Linked DNA regions of Homo sapiens: region 1 is linked to region 2. A link means that fine-mapping ties the variant in region 2 to the plasma level of a protein whose gene starts in the linked region. Region 2 holds a variant in brackets. A gene starts in the other region. All regions are shown on their forward strands. Region 1 holds the start of FCRL1 (Fc receptor like 1). Region 2 overlaps NCOR1 (nuclear receptor corepressor 1).

Evidence for each region. A credible set is the group of variants that fine-mapping cannot tell apart. PIP is the chance, under the fine-mapping model, that this variant and not a neighbour inherited with it causes the effect. The UK Biobank Pharma Proteomics Project read protein levels with antibody pairs (Olink). The fine-mapping took linkage between variants from a reference panel, not from the people measured, so its PIPs are less certain.
Region 1: it holds the start of FCRL1, and the variant in region 2 is the best candidate, but not a certain one, in a credible set for the plasma level of the FCRL1 protein (UK Biobank, PIP 0.56).

What each region holds. Positions count from the first base shown.
Region 1 is chr1:157,817,854-157,822,853 of GRCh38, forward strand. FCRL1 (Fc receptor like 1) reads right to left here and starts at 2,267. Exons shown (of 11, transcript NM_052938.5): 1 at 2,154-2,267. The coding sequence starts at 2,184.
Region 2 is chr17:16,112,690-16,117,689 of GRCh38, forward strand. All of the region lies in intron 18 of NCOR1 (nuclear receptor corepressor 1), which reads right to left. Among named protein-coding and RNA genes, the nearest start is that of SNORD163, 38 kb to the right of the region's middle. RefSeq lists a silencer at 937-1,134. The variant G/A (reference allele first, on the strand shown) is at 2,058.

The DNA of each region.
Region 1 (5,000 bases), not on the chromosome of region 2:
GTCTAATTCTCAAAAGAAGAAATGCAAATGGCCAACAGGTATATGAAAAAATGCCCAATATCACTAATCAACAGAAAAATGCAAATCAAAACCACAATGAAATATTACCCCATACCTATGAAAATGACTATAATCAAAAAGACCAAAGATAACTAGTATTGTCAAAGATGTCGAGAAAAGAGAATCCTCACATGCTGTAGGTGGGACTGTAAATTAGAACAGCCATTATGGAAGACAGTATGGAGGCTCTTAAAATATAAAAAATGGAACTACCATATGGTTCAGCCATCCCACTACTGGACATGTATCCAGAGGAAATTAAAGCAGTGTGTTAAAGAGATATCTGCACTCCCACATTTATTGCAGCACTATTCACGATAGCCAAGACAGCATCAATGTAGATGTTCATCAAAAAATTAATGGATAAAGAAAATGCAATATACATACATGATGGAATACTATTCAGACATAAAAAATAATGAAATCCTATCATTTACAACAACATGGGTGAGCCTGAAGGATATTATGTTAAATGAAATGAGGTAGGCACAGGATGACAAGTACTGCATTATCTCACTCATGTGGAATCTGAAAACGTTGATCTCATAGAAGGACGGTGCAGAATCATGGTTACAAGAAGCTTGGGTAATAGTGGGGAAGGAGGAATGAGGGAAATGTTGCTCAAGGGATATATAATTACAGTTAGATATGGGGTGTGTGTCCAGAATAGACAAATATAGAGAGACAGAAAGTAGATAATGATTGCATGTGGCCAGAAAATAGAGGGGTGAGGATAGGTGAGGCGTTGGAAAAAAAATTGGGGATGCCTGCTAGTGGGTATGGCGTTCTTTCTTGGGTGATGAAAACATTCTGAAATTGATTGTGGTGATAGTTGCACCACTCAGTGATTGTCATAAAAAACCATTGGATTGCATAACTTAAATGGTGAATTGTATTATATGTGAATAATATTTCAATAAAGCTGTTTTTAATAAAAGATACTGTAGCATGTTTGTATACTTATGGGAATAATTTAGAATGAAGAAACATATTGATGATGGAGCAAACTTTTTGAGAAAGTAAGAGGGTCATGGGCCTAATGCACAAGTGGAGAGTCTTGTCATCAACAAGATGAGGGGCAATATATTCGTGGTAGGGGAAGAGAAGGCAGTGTATGTGAATGCAGAGGTGAGTAGGTCAACAGCAACAGAAAGATGAGAGAGTTTTCTTCTGACTGCTTTTATTTTCTCAATGAAATATGAAGCAAGATTACACAATGAGAGTGAACAGAGAAGTATGAGGTGACAGGATAAGGTATGCAATAGTGATAATGGAGCAACATGGACTGTGAACATGTAGGATAATTGCCTGGCATTGCTGTTGGCTACCTGAGATTTGGGGGTCCTACACTTAAAAGGGGATAAGTCATCAGGGTTGTGCATTTAAAAAAAAATCCCATTCAGCTGTTTATGTCCAGGAGTGAAGCATGCAGAAGGGCGTGTAAACCAGGAGAGTGCTATGGGGGAAGAGAGATGAAGGTGTGCTCGAGGGAGTGTTGTGGTGGTGAGCTGCAGAATCTGAGCTGAGCACCATGAGAAGTGAGCACATGAAGTGTAGTTACTGATAATGGAAAAGTAGCCCTGGGGTAATTGAAGTCATGTTGGAAATAGAGTGCAGGAGAAAGTGAGCTAGAAACACAACTTAGTGGGGGTGGGGGATGTATGCTGAAAACAAAGGAGTGATGATAAGTTCTAAGGTTTGACTGTGGGAATGGGGAGTCAGAGAGGGATAAAAGGAAATAACGTTGGTAGTAAGAAGGGCAAGGAATTCAGAGGCCTATTTATTATACAGATTTTTCTTTTGGCAGCTGTTGAAAACACTGAGAACAAAGACAATTATTGATGGAAAGGAAGACAGACAGTGAACACTTCCTATGAGATAAAAACTGAAATGATAGTTTTCTTGAAAACTCTGGCTTTTTGAAATATCTACAACTTTTTGCCTGACTCTGAGCCCTCCGTGGAAGTGGAGATCTGAGCACCCCTGAGCATTACCTGACAGAACCTTAGTCCTAAGAAGTCCTTACAGCCCTTCAGGAAGCAGAGCCCAAGCATGATTGCATCCCATGCCCTGCTCTGAGTTGCCCAACTCACCACAGATCAACAGCAACAGCCTCGGCAGCATGAGGACCAGGTCAGGGATGGTACCTAGAGATGCCTCTCATCAAAAAAAGAATGCACCTCAGAGTCGAGCAGCAGCAGCTCATCAGAGGTTTGAGGAAGTTGATATCGGAAGTTACCCTTCAGCAGAAGTAGAAGGAAGAAGAACCCTCTAGTGACCAGTCTCCATTTCCTTTTCTATGAAGTCTGAGAAAATTAAAGATGCTCCTTTTTAAATATAGTTTGATTCAGTTCCACAAGCTGCAGATAGTACACATCAATATTTGAGGGACTTTTTCAAGAATTCAGGTATTTCAAAGGAAGTTTTCTAAAGGCAGTTTCCTACTTTGATGAGTCTCATCAGGTTATGGTCCTGCTGAAATTCATCTTTGATACATCTACAATACTTTTCACCTTTGATAGGGATGTCTCCTGGATTGTTTCTAATTGGCACATTCTTCTTGCTCAGCAATATAGTCCCACTATGCAAACTTTCTCTAGTATAGTCATATTATGCAAACATGTCATTAAATCAGGGACTGATGGGGCTGTCACCCCGGTTATGTGTAGTGTCTGACCCTTGCTGCATATGATGACTTATGTACAGGGTCAACCTATTCATACAGATATACGCTTTGATATTCAAACTTTCAGTGTACCAGTAAATGAGCATGAAATCACTGAAAAATAAAATCACGGCAAATTACAATCTGGGGGATATTTGAAAATGAAATACAGAAAAGAAGTATATGCAAATTAGCTTCAGGGCACTTGAGAAGGGTTCACCATTAGTACTAACTCTGGCATTTGTAAAATTGCCCCTCTTTTCCCTCAAAATCAGGGCACCTATAATCTCTCCCATTGCTACCTTTAGCACATTAGGGATACCAGTTCTAGGCAAGTGAAGCCTAGATTAGGGATTGGAGGAGAATAAGCTATCTTAATTTTCAACATTTCTTAAATCCGTGAGTGTCTAGGATTAAGAATAACTAGAATGTGTGGAAAGTAACCTATTAGGGGAAAGATGCTGTCAGGCAATGATGTCTAAGTCCAGGTATCCAGCTCAATGAGTATGACTGAGAAAAGAAACTATTCAGTGATACGCAAAACCAGAGGGAAAAGGGAGCAATGTTGGTAACCAGGCTAACAGCGAAAGTGCTGAAAACGAATAGGTATTCCATAGCTTTATTTATTGGCTTAGGAAAGCCTGTGTGGGGATAAGCTTGTTTAGTGTAAAGTTTCAGGACCAATGCAAAAAAATCTCCTGAATGAGAATGTAGAGCCCTTTAAATCCAGGGTGTAAAGCTGTTTTTGCATACACTCTGCTGTTTCATCTCTCTCTTTTTCTTTTAATCTGTTGGTTTTTTTAATGTTTTAATTGACACATTGTAATTGTACATATTTATGGGGCACAGTTTGACATTGCAATATAATACATATATATGTTGTACAGTGATGATCAAATCAGGGTGGTTGGCATATCCATTGTCTCGTGCAGTTTTCATTTCTATGTGGTGAGAACATTCAAAAGCCTCTTTCCTAGCTATTTTGTAATATATAATACCTTACTAGTAACCATAGTTACCCTACTGTGCAATAAAACACCAAACCTTATTCCTCCTATCGAATTGGCACCTTGTACCTGTTGACCAATCTTTCCCTCTCTTCCCTCCTCATTCCCTCCTCAGTCTCTGATAGATGCTATTCTATGCTATACTTCCATAATATCAACTTCTTATTTTTTTCAGATTCCACATATAAGTAAGTTCATGTGGTATTTGTCTTTCTGTGTCTGGCTTGGTTCACTTAACATGATGTCCTCCAGCTTCATCATGTTGTCACAAATGACAGGATTTCATTTTGTATGGCTGAATGGTATTCCGTTGTATATATACACCACATTTTCTTTATGGATTCATCTGTTGTTGGGGTCTTAGGTTGATTCTCATCACATCTCTTCCTGTGTGTCCTGCTCCAGTGCCTTCACAAGATGTTCAGATTAAAATGTGTTTCCTCCTCCACAGATATAAAGGCTATAACATTTTATTTGTTAAGCTCTCTCACACTTTTATTTTTATAATGTGATAGTTCATGCATGCATACAAAAAAGTAACATGAATATAAATTATGAAATACTACGATGAAATGAAAAGCCATGAGCCTATCCCCAGACTGTTTTAAGAACTTGAACATAAGGCGGGCGGATCACGAGGTCAGGAGATCGAGACCATCCTGGCTAACACAGTGAAACCCCGTCTCTACTAAAAAACACAAAAAATTAGCCGGGCGTGGTGGCGGGCGCCTGTAGTCCCAGCTGCGCGGGAGGCTGAGGCAGGAGAATGGCGTGAACCCGGGAGGCGGAGCTTGCAGTGAGCCGAGATCGCGCCACTGCACTCCAGCCTGGGTGACAGAGCGAGACTCCGTCTCAAAAAAAAAAAAAAAAAAAAAAAAAAAAAAAAAGAACTTGAACATAACATGATACTATTACATCTACTTGAGTGTGCCTTTTCTAACCCACTCCTCGTGTACTCTCCAGAAGTAATTACCACTCTGAATATTTTGTTTATAGTTCTCTTTCTTAAAAATCAGCTTATCGAGTTATAATTAATATACATTGAAATGAACCCATCATAAGTATATGATTCAATGATTTTTGACAAACATACACACTGATGTAAAAGCAATCACTGTCATGATCTAGAACATTTCCATCATCTCAATGGGTTTCCTTGTGTGCCTTCCCAGTCACCCCAAACCTCCCAGAACCAGGTAACTCTCCATCTGCTTTCTATAGATTTGATTTGCCTTTTCTAGAATTTCCTACAAATTGAAACATATAAT
Region 2 (5,000 bases):
CACGTTGGCCAGGATGGTCTTGATCTCTTGAACTCGTGATCTGCCCGCCTCGGCCTCCCAACGTGCTGGGATTAAAGGCGTGAGCCACTGCACCTGGCCAAAGAGCTTTTCTTTATGGGAGAAATATAGACAGCCAGATAGACACTTACTATATCAGAAACTAAAACTAAGAAAACTTCAAAATTTTAAATTATTAAAAACAATATAAACTCATAAATTATTATTTATTTATTTATTTTGAGATGGAATCTCGCTCTGTCGCCTAGGCTGGAGTGCAGTGGTGCGATCTCGGCTCACTGCAAGCTCTGCCTCCTGGGTTCACACCATTCTCCTGCCTCAGCCTCCCCAATGGCTGGGACTACAGGCACCCACCACCATGGCCGGCTAACATTTTTTTCTGTATTTTTAGTAGAGACGGGGTTTCACCATGTTAGCCAGGATGGTCTCGATCTCCTGACCTTGTGTTCTGCCCTCCTCAGCCTCCCAAAGTGCTGGGATTACAGGCATAAGCCACCGCGCCTGGCCAAGAATTTATTTTTTTAATGAAAAGTAACCATTTTCCAAAAAAAAAAAAATGACTTACTAAAACAGTGGCACAACCTTCCCCTTTTGGAAATCTCTTCCATGTCTGATCTAACAGAGACAGCACAATTCTCAAGGTGCTTCCACATATGATCTAATCTGTGGATTACATTAAGTAATCTAATGTTTTGGTTGAAGTATAAGAAAACAATGTAGCCTCACACAGATATGTCGTTGGAAAAGGGAAGAATATTTTAACAGATTTTTCAGATACTTATGCATACTATTTTTTGATACTGTACCAAAACTCACCAAGTGTCACTTCTTATTTGTTAGTTACAATATGAAATCTTATACCATATCAAGGAACCCTTCATACTCTGTTAAAATCTATAATCTGGCCAGGCGCGGTGGCTCACGCCTGTAATCCCAGTACTTTGGAAGGCTGAGGCAGGCAGATCACTTGAGGCCAGGAGCTGAAGACCAGCCTGACCAACATGGTGAAACCCCATCTCTACTAAAAATACAAAAATTAGCTGGGCATAGCGGCGTGCGCCTGTAATCCCAGCTGCTAAGGAGGCTGAGGCAGGAGAATTGCTTGAACCTGGGAGGCGGAGGTTGCAGTAAGCCAAGATCATGCCACTGCACTCCAGCCTGGGCAACAGGGTGAGACTCCATCTCAAAAAAAAAGAAAAAAGAAAAAAATCTGTAACCTATCTTACGTTTGGTATATTAAAAAAACATTATCAATCTTTTATCAATGCATGATCCATTATGTATTAGTTCATTTTCACGCTGCTGATAAAGACATACTTGAGACTGGGAAGTAAAAGAGGTTTAATGGACTTACAGTTCCACATGGCTGGGGAGGCTTCACAATCATGGCAAAAGGGAAGGAGGAGCAAGTAACGTCTTACATGATGGCGGCAGGCAAAAAAAAAAAAAAAAAAAAAAAAAACTTGTGCAGGGGAACTCCTCTTTCTAAAACCAGTAGATCTCCTAAGACTTATTCACTATCACAAAAATAGCATGAGAAAGACCTGCCCCATGATTCAATTATCTCCCACTGGGTCCCTCCCACAACACATGGGAACTGTGGGACCTACAATTCAAGATGAGATTTGGGTGGGGACACAGCCATACCATATCATTCTGCCGCTGGCCCCTCCCACATCTCATGTCTTCACATTTCAAAACCAATCATGCCTTCCCAACAGTCCTCCAAAGTCTTCACTAATTTCAGCATTAACCCAAAAGTCCATAGCCCAAAGTCTCATCTGAGACAAGGCAAGTCCCTTCCCCTATGAGCCTGTGAAAGCAGAAGCAAGTTAGTTACTTCCTAGATACAATGGGGGCACAGGTATTGGGTAAATACAGCTGTTCCAAGTGGGAGAAACTGGCCAAACGAAAGGGGCTATAGGGTCTATCCAAGTCCAAAATCCAGCAGGGCAGTCAAACCTTAAAGCTCCAAAATGATCTCCTTTGACTCCATGTCTCACGTCCAGGTCGTGCTGATGCAAGAGGTGGGTTCCCAC[G/A]GTCTTGGGCAGCTCCAATCCTGTGGCTTTGCAGGGAACAGCCTCCTTCCTGGCTGTTTTCACAGGGTAGCGTTGAGTGTCTGCGGCTTTTCCAGGCACACAGTGCAAACTGTAGGTGGATCTACCATTCTGGAGGATGGTGGCCCTCTTCTTACAGCTCCATTAGGCAGTGCACTAGTAGGGAGTCTGACCCCCCATTTCCCTTCTGCACTGCCCTAGCAGAGGTCCTCCATGAGAGCCCCACCCCTGTAGCAAACTTCTGCTTGAACATCCAGGCGTTTCCATACATCCTCTGAAATCTAGGCAGAGGTTCCCAAACCTCAATTCTTGACTTCTATGTACCCACAGGCTCAACACCATATGGAAGCTGCAAAGGCTTGGGGCTTGCACCCTCTGAAGCCACGGCCCAAGCTGTACCTTGGCCCCTTTCAGCCATGGCCAGAGCTGCTGGGGTGCAGAGCACCAAGTCCCTGGGCTGCAAACAGCAAGGGGGTCCTGGGTCCAGGGCATGAAATCATTTTTTCCTCCTCAGCCTCCAGGCCTATGATGGAAAGGGCTGCCATAAAGACCTCTGACATGCTGTGAAGAAATTTTCCCCATTGTCTTGGAACTTAATATTCAGCTCCTCATTACTTATGCAAATTCCTGCAGCAGGCTTGAATTCCTCTTCAGAAAATGGGATTTTCTTTTCTATCACGTTGTTAGGCTGCAAATTTTCCAAACTTTTATGCTCTGCTTCCCTCATAAAACTGAATGCCTTTAACAGCACCCAAGTCACCTCTAGAATGCTTTGCTGCTTAGAAATGTCTTCCGCCAGATAACCTAAATTATCTCTCTCAAGTTCAAAGTTCTGCAAATCTCTAGGGCAGGGGCAAAATGCTGCCAGTCTCTTTGCTAAAACATAAGAAGACTCACCTTTGCTCCAATTCCCAACAAGTTCCTCATTTCCATCTGAGATCACCTCAGCCTGGACCTTATTGTTCATATCACTATCAGCAGTTTTGTCAAAGCCATTCAACAAGTCTCTAGGAAGCTCCAAACATTTCCACATTTTCCTGTCTTCTTCTGAGCCCTCCAAACTGTTGCAACCTCTGCCTGTTACCCAGTTCCAAAGTCGCCTCCATATTTTCAGGTATCTTTTCACCAACACCCTACTCTACCAGTACCAATTTATTGTATTAGTCCGTTTTCACGCTGCTTATAAAGACATACCCAAGACTGGGAAGAAAAAGAGGCTTAAAGGGCTTACAGTTCCACATGACTGGGGAGGCCTCACAATCATGGCAGAAAGCAAGGAGGAGCAAGTAACATCTTGCATGGATGGGGCAGGCAAAAAAAGAGAGCTTGTGCGGGGAAATTCCTCTTTATAAAACCATCAGATCTTGTGAGACTTATTCACTATCACGAGAATAGCATGAGAAAAAGGCCTGCCCCATGATTCAATTATCTCCCACTGAGTCCCTCCCATGACACATGGTAATTGTAGGAGTTACAATTAAAGATGAGACTTGGGTGGCAACAAAGCCAAACCATATCACATTATAACATCATGAAATGGCCATTTGGAAAGTAGAGTTAAAGCAAGTTTTTCAAATTTGGATACATTTCATCACACAGTAACAACTATCGCATTTGCTATTATTACCACTGATCTCATCAGAAAATCTGTAATGAGAAGGTGTGAAGCTCATGGTTAGAGAAACATATTTTCCAAAATTCTCATTTTTTGCTTGAAAACTCAAAATTTTAAAGTGGCAACAAACACTATCAGTTATTTTATTTCAAAGACAGCCTCATTCACTAATTTTCAAGAAAATGTCTCCCAAAATCCCAGTCTGAAAACATAGTTTGTCTGTCATTCTTTCAATCTAAAATGACATTCCATGAAAAAGGGGAGGCTGGTGCAACTTAGAACTCGAACAATTGCCAAAGTGCTTTTCCCTGAGAGAACCATCATATTTTGGTATAGAGCAGAACTTTATGTTTACTTCCCATTACATGACACGAAGTATAAAAAGACATACTCAATGGGTGAGATTTAATAAAATTAACTTTTACTGCGTCATCAAGGACATTCTTAAGTGACATTTTAAGAAAAAACTGCAAATGCTCAGCGATGAAAAATACATTGAGTACTAGCACCGTTTGGTTCCCTGCCAAGATTTATGCTTAGGCATCAGCAATTTTATCTACCACAGCTTTGACACCATAAATGCAAATGTCATATACTGAAAAAAAGTAAATAACATTTGATTGATATTTTTATGAAAACAGTCTTGACCTCATGGAATCATCAAAAAGCTCTATGGTCTTTGACAACCACTACACTGGAACTTACTTATTAAGGAATTTCCAATAATGTTATACTCTCTGGTTTTTAATATTTATACCATGGAATCTTCTCTCTGAAAAAATGTCTAATATACCAAATCAATTCACTCGATATTATCAACAGACCTCCAACTAAAGTTTTCAATTCAATCTCCAAAAAGTTTGTATTTTTCAAATCCAGCCTACAGTAATTCAAGAGTATTTAATTCCCTTTACTACAAATAGAAACTTCGGAGGAGGAAAGATAAGCTGGGGCAGGTCATGATGGGCCTTGTTTGGACTGTTAGGAATACAAATAGAAACTTTACTCCTTGAGCAATAAATAGAGAAACAGCTAGCCTATACTAAAAATTTAGCATACCTTTTACATATAAGTGCAATAAATAAAAATATAAGATACAAAAAGGTTTCTCTTAAAACCAATCTCTGGAGCTCAGAAAAAAAAAAAAAAAAAAAACATCAAGGCTAGATGCAGTGGCTCACACCTGTAATCCCAGCACTTTGGGAGGCTGAGACAGGTGGATCACCTGAGGTCTGGAGTTCGAGACCAGCCTGGCCAACATGGTGAAACACTGTCTCTACTAAAACTACAAAAATTAGCCAGGCATGGTG